Homo sapiens: one gene and its partner. The protein of the gene in region 1 interacts with the protein of each later gene in a biochemical or structural test. Each region holds a gene or a part of one and is shown in the gene's direction. Other genes may lie near its edges.

Region 1 (3,302 bases):
ATGATTTCCAAAAAAAAAAACTTTGTTGGCATATGTGGGCAGCAGTGACAAAAGGGAAAAATAACAGAAAAGCCTGGATACCTGAAAGTTTAACTGCTAAATGAGTGTTTGAAATTTTCAAGTTTATTCACTATATTTCTTTTGAACTTCTTGGTTGGTTATTTACTTCTTTTCCTCTTGAAATACCATGGTATTTATTGAAATACCATGGTATTTGACAGATTTAGTTATTGTGGATTGAGTTAAATCTCCTGTTTAGTTAGCTTATATAAGAGATCATCTGTTAAAAACCATACAGATAACTAGTCATGATTAAGCATCTTTTTGAAAAGTGTAGTGATAGTTCTGGTAAACTGAAATTGGTCATTAAATGGAAACGTTCCATTGTGAATGACCAATAATAAAGTCACTTAATGTGATGTTGTACTGGCCTTTTTTCCAAGTTTTAGGAGGTAGATAGCCAAACCCTTGGATGATAAACATTGATAGAGTTTGAATAGACTGCTAGCTATTAGGGTTCTTATGAGCTTTGGACTTTCATAAATCACTTCACCATGCTGATCTTGTTTCCTCTTTTGTAAAACTGAGATAATAATAGTACTTACCTTGTAGGATTATTGTGAGGTTTAAGTGAGATCATGAATGTAAAAATCTTAGCACTGGACCTGGTACATAATAAGCACTCGGTAGCTCTTAGTTCTAATAAGGTAAGCATTTTCTTTTCTCCAAACCTAATATCGCACTCCTCATTACCACCCTCTCACCCTCATGCTCTGCTTAATAGTCATTTCACCTCAAGCCAGAGAGATCACTGATGCTGGGGAAATTAGGGGATCGCTGTAGTTAATATTGTGCTGATATTCTAGGTCTTTCACCATAATTAAGAGAAGTCATCTGATTTCCCAACCTTGGGATTACTGGATAAAATTTTCACTGCTGTATCAGACTACTTCCCCTCTTTTCCCCTCTTGAACAAGTGGTCATTTTACTTATCCTGAAAAACTTTCTATTAGCAAACAAGATTATATTATATTTACAGACTAGATACATAAGATATATAGTGGAATTTTGTCATCCAGGAGCTTAGAATGCAATCATGAAGATAAAGCTACAAGCTTTCTTGATTACTTTTAAATCACAGGATGCAGAAATCCAAGTCACTTAGATGCACTAAACCAGAAATATGAAGATCTAAATTATGAGGTACTTCATTTATCAAGCCATTTCATGTAGTTTTTTTTTGAGATGGAGTCTCGCTCTGTCATCCAGGCTGGAGTGCAGTGGCATGATCTTGGCTCACTGCAGCGTCTGCCTCCCGGGTTCAAGCAATTCTTTTGCCTCAGCCTCTCGAGTAGCTGGGACCACAGGTGCGCACAATCACGCCTGGCTAATTTTTGTGTTTTTAGTAGAGACGGGGTTTTACCATATTGGTCAGGCTGGTCTCGAACTCCTGACCTCATGATCTGCCCACAGCCTCCCAAAGTGCTGGGATTACAGGCATGAGCCACTGCACCTGTCCAGTATTCTTTTAAATAGTGATTTTTTTTTTTTTTGAGATGGAGTCTTCTTGCTCTGTCACCCAGGTTGGAGTGCAGTGGCGCGATCACGTTTCACTACAACCTCCACCTCCCGGGTTCAAGCAATTCTCCTGCCTCAGTCTCCCTGGTAGCTGAGACTACAGGCGCCCACCACCACACCTGGCTAATTCTTGTATTTTTAGTACAGATGGGGTTTTGCCATGTTAGCCAGTCTGGTCTCAAACTTCTGACCTCAGGTGATCCACCCATCTTAGCCTCCCAAAGTGCTGGGATTACAGGCATGAGCCACCACACCCGGTCTAAATAGTGATTTCATCAGTACGTTTTAAATCTTAATTTATAAAAATGAAGCCAACTAACTCTTGCCCAAAGTAAAGGTGTGCTTCATGAACTATCTTGACAAAACTAGTATTCTGTGTCCTTAAACTACCTTACAGTGCTCATGTGAAGTTACAATAAATGTAGTCTTTTGTATTTAACCACGCGAAGGGTAGCTGCTTCTGGCATGACCTCTTTAAAATAGAAAAGTAATAGAAAGTATTCCGTAACAATATGACAAGGATGTGACAGTTTAATGTATGTATAGTATATAGTACAGGTTGAACACCTTTAATGAGAATCCAAAATCTGAAATGCTCTAAAATTGGAAACTTTGAATGCCAACATGATGCCACAGGTGGAAAATTCCACACTTTACCTCATTTGACAGGTTGCAGTCAAAACTTTGTTTCATGCACAAAAGGTATAAAATTATCTTCAGGCTATGTAAGGTATGTATGAAACATAGATGAATTTTGTGTTTAGACTTGGGTCCCATCTCCATGGTATCTCACTATGTATATGCAAATATACCAAAATGAAAAAGTCAGGACCAGGCATGGTAGCTCACACCTGTGAGTACTGGGATTCCAGTACTTTGGGAGGCTGAGGCTGGGGGGATTACTCCAGAACAAGAGTTTAAGGTCAGCCTGGGCGACATAGCAAGACCCTGTCTATTAAAAAAATTAAAAGCTCCAAAAAAAAATCAAAAATCAAAAACACTTTTGGCGTTAAAGAATCTTCAACATACCTGGGCACGGTGGCTCATCCCTGTAATCCCAGCACTTTGGGAGGCTGAGGCAGGTGGATCACCTGAGGTCAGGAGTTCAAGACCAGCCTGGCCAATATGGTGACACCCCATCTCTACCAAAAATACAAAAATTAGCCAGGCGTGGTGGCTTGTGTCTAGTCCCAGCTACTCGGGAAGCTGAGGCAGAAGAATCACTTGAACCCAGGAGGTGGAGGTTGCAGTGAGCCAAAGTGGTGCCACTGCAGTCCAGCCTGGGTGACAGAGCGAGACTCCGTCTCAAAAAAAAAAAAAAAGAATCTTCAACGTGTATAAAACATTTTTTAACCTGGTTTATTTTCATGATACTTTTCTCTAAAAAAGAGATTTAAATAAATAAAAATTTTAAAAAAGGAGATTAAATTCATGAGCCGAAACTGTTGTCTTTTTAATGGGGTATTAACTAAATGGGCTTGAGCCAATGATAATGAACTTTACATTGAAAATTTGCCTTCTCTTACAGCCTGCTGATCTTAAGAAGAGAATAGAATCTTTAATTGACCGGGACTACATGGAAAGAGATAAAGAAAATCCAAACCAGTACAACTATATTGCATAGAATGTTGGCCTTGCAGCATTTGGTGTCATATGCAGTAGCCAGTGGATAAACTAACCTGTTGATTCAATATTATTTGACTCCTTTTTTACTACCGATGACC
Region 2 (3,500 bases), on another chromosome or scaffold:
GCTGGTCTTGAACTCCTGACCTTAGGTGATCCACCCGCCTTGGCCTCCCAAAGCGCTGGGATTACAGGTGTTAGCCACCGCGCCCAGCCTGCAAGAACTGTTTATGTCTTCTGGGCTTCTGTTACTGCTTGAATCAAAGCACTTGTATTGTTGATCTTTTTTCAGTATTGGGTTTTGCTTAAGAGTACATTGCTTCAGAGCTCTTCACAAATTACTGCTCTAATCCACATGACTAGGCAATAAGGTGCTCCACCTTTGAATCCTTAAACATCAGTGTGGTATTGGAGTTGAATAGCTCATACTGGATGGTCTGCCTTTCCTGACAGCTTTTACTTCTGGCGGATAAAATTTATAGCCATCTGAGGAAAGGAGGCCCATGAGCAGCATTTAAAATCTTTATTCTCCCCTTTTTTCTTCACACCTTGACTTAGGTTGGAAGTTGTGGTTGTATTGGCTTTAGAACATTCCTCAAGTTCTCATTGGAATTGACTTGACTGTTGTGAGTTAAGAGAATGCAGTATGTAGTTATAGGAGATAAGATCGATAAAAGTGACCTAGTTATTTAACTATCAGCATAGCAGACCTAGAATATACTGAACTTTCGTCTTAGGCACCACTATAGTAGCCCAGCTTTTTATCAATTTTATATATGCTTCCTAATAAAACTGTCTCAATAGAGAGACTAAAAATGTGTGACTAAGAATTATATTAAAAAATTCAAACTAATGGAAGTAAGTCAAAATATATTTACTAGCAAAAGGTGAGCAAGAACCCACTCAAATGATCACAATTCCCACTTACCCCTTCAGCTTGCTTTCTTAGTGAATTTTAGAAACTTAGGTGGGGAAGAAGCTTAGGATTTAGGTGACAGAAGGTGTAGTGGTACTTTCTTTTTTTTGAGATGGAGTCTCGCTTTGTCGCCCAGGCTAGAGTGCAGTGGTGCGACTTTGGCTCACTGCAAGCTCTGCCTCCTGGGTTCATGCCATTCTACTGCCTCATCCTCCTGAGTAGCTGGGACTACAGGCGCCCGGCTAATTTTTTGTATTTTTAGTAGAGACGGGGTTTCACCATGTTAGCCAGGATGGTCTCGATCTCCTAACCTCGTGATCCACGTGCCTCGGCCTCCCAAAGTGCTGGGATTACAGGCGTGAGCCACCGTGCCTGGCCTGATACTTTCTTAAAGTAGGAAATGGTGCAACACCACATCCATAAGTCAAGAGTGATTTTTATCAGCTGGTTTCCGTCTTTCGCTAAGAAGATGGCTATGCTAGCTCTTGCTGGAGTTGGCTCTTCTTTTTATATTCTGTTTAATTATTTGCTATAACTTAATAAATGCCCATCCAATACAACAGAGCCAATGGTAGATGTATCAGGCACACTTTTATACAATATGCCAATGTTTTGCCTCTTGAGAACTTAATATAATCTTAGATTGTCCTGAGATTCTTTGCTTTTGTTGAAGTATTTTATGTGTGTGGATTTGATCTTAATCTTTTCAATTTCTTGTCCTTTACAAGATTTCCCCTCAGAGGGTACTCTCTGTAATTATTTGTAATGAAAACACTTGGACCAAAGTTCATTTTTTGGTCTTTTGATGTGAAGATTTCTTAGACTAAGGTGGTCACTATCCTGTTTTCTTATTTTTCCCTCTCCTCTACTCCTTCCTCACTAACATGCAGGAAGCCTGTCTAGCAGTCCAGAGGAGATGTCTGGAGCTGAAGAGGGGAGGGAGACATCCTCAGGCATTGAAGTGGAGGCCTCAGACCTGAGTTTGAGCTTGACTGGGGATGATGGTGGCCCCAACCGCACCAGCACAGAAAGTCGAGGCACAGACACAGAGAGCTCAGGTGAAGATAAGGACTCTGACAGCATGGAGGACACTGGTCATTACTCCATTAATGATGAAAATCGAGTCCATGACCGCTCAGAGGAAGAGGAAGAGGAGGAAGAAGAGGAGGAAGAAGAGCAGCCTCGGCGCCGTGTACAGCGCAAGCGGGCTAACCGTGACCAGGACTCATCAGATGATGAGCGGGCCCTAGAGGACTGGGTGTCCTCAGAAACATCAGCTCTACCCCGACCTCGCTGGCAAGCCCTCCCTGCCCTTCGGGAGCGGGAGCTGGGTTCAAGTGCCCGCTTTGTCTATGAGGCCTGTGGGGCAAGAGTCTTTGTGCAGCGTTTCCGCCTGCAGCATGGGCTTGAGGGCCATACTGGTTGTGTCAATACCCTGCACTTTAACCAGCGCGGCACCTGGCTGGCCAGTGGCAGCGATGACCTGAAGGTGGTGGTGTGGGATTGGGTACGGCGGCAGCCAGTACTGGACTTTGAGAGTGGCCACAAAAGTAATGTGTTCCAGGTGAGGCAAGGGAGCATAATAGCAACTGAGAGAATCAGGCATGAGTTAGAGAAATCTGAACTGCAGCATGGATTGGGAGCTGATAGTGAGTTATTGTAGGAATTACATATCGGGACATGGCCCTACTTTGGCTCCCCTAATGACCTAAATACACTGAAAGACTCTTGGCAACCCTAGATTCCTTGAGCATGTGGACTGTTGGAAGCCTCATAGGTAGGGTGCATGCAGCTTATTAAATGTGTGCTGGTAGGAGGCAGTGTAGTATAAGCACAGGCTCTTGAACCAAACTGCCTGAGTTCAAATCCTAGCCCTTCTGCTTACTAGCTCAGTGATCTTGGCCAAGTTATTTTACCTTTGTCTTCAGTTTATCTGTAAAATGGGACTAATAACACATAGGGTTATGAGGATTAAGTAACAATAGAAGCTAAGCAGTTAGAACTGTGACTGGTACTTAATAAACATTTGATAAATGTTAGCTTATACTGTTGTTATTCTGGAAAGATTTTACTCCTTGGCCCCATCTACTGTACTGGTACCAGCCATTTATCCTAAGGGTGTTCTCTTTTCTTCCCTGACATTCCCCCTATTTTCCTTTTTCTTTGTAGCAAATTTATATTTACTTTCTTAATCAAAGTAGATTTTTCCTCCTCTATTCCTTTTCTCCTCTGCTAGATACAGTCCTAGTTCATCTGAGCTCTTATCATGTGCCAGTTCAATCTTCCAGAGCCAACTGAAATGCTCTCTTACATCAAAGGAAGTTTTTTCTCTCCCTTTCCTTTAACTCCTGGAAGAAATTGGGCTTAGCCAGCTGTACAAGAGTAGGAAAGCTAAGTTTCCAGCTGTCATGTAAGAAAAGGGGGTAAGTTGAGGTCATCATCGTATTTTTTATTCTCAAGTTTACCTCTCTCATTTCTTTTGTGTGTCCTTTTTTTCATTTTTAACACCCCAGGCCAAGTTTCTTCCTAACAGTGGTGATTCTACTCTGGCCATGTGTGCCCGTGACGGGCAGGTTCGAGTAGCAGAACTGTCTGCCACACAGTGTTGCAAGAATACAAAACGTGTGGCCCAGCACAAGGGAGCGTCCCACAAGGTAAGTAAGACCTTGCTCCAAAATTTGTGCAATCCAAATCCTCTGTGGTTCTCAGCC

Evidence for each region. The genes of interacting proteins can lie anywhere in the genome.
Region 2: the proteins of CUL4B (region 1) and DCAF8 form a complex in vitro, tested with the Homo sapiens proteins (one study listed by BioGRID).

What each region holds. Positions count from the first base shown.
Region 1 is NC_000023.11:120,526,661-120,529,962, reverse strand, and holds part of CUL4B (cullin-4B), read left to right. Parts: intron 1-3,106; coding exon 3,107-3,202; 3' UTR 3,203-3,302.
Region 2 is NC_000001.11:160,238,550-160,242,049, reverse strand, and holds part of DCAF8 (DDB1- and CUL4-associated factor 8), read left to right. Parts: intron 1-1,679; coding exon 1,680-2,353; exon of another isoform or gene 2,354-2,828; intron 2,829-3,302; coding exon 3,303-3,443; intron 3,444-3,500. UniProt on the Homo sapiens protein: May function as a substrate receptor for CUL4-DDB1 E3 ubiquitin-protein ligase complex.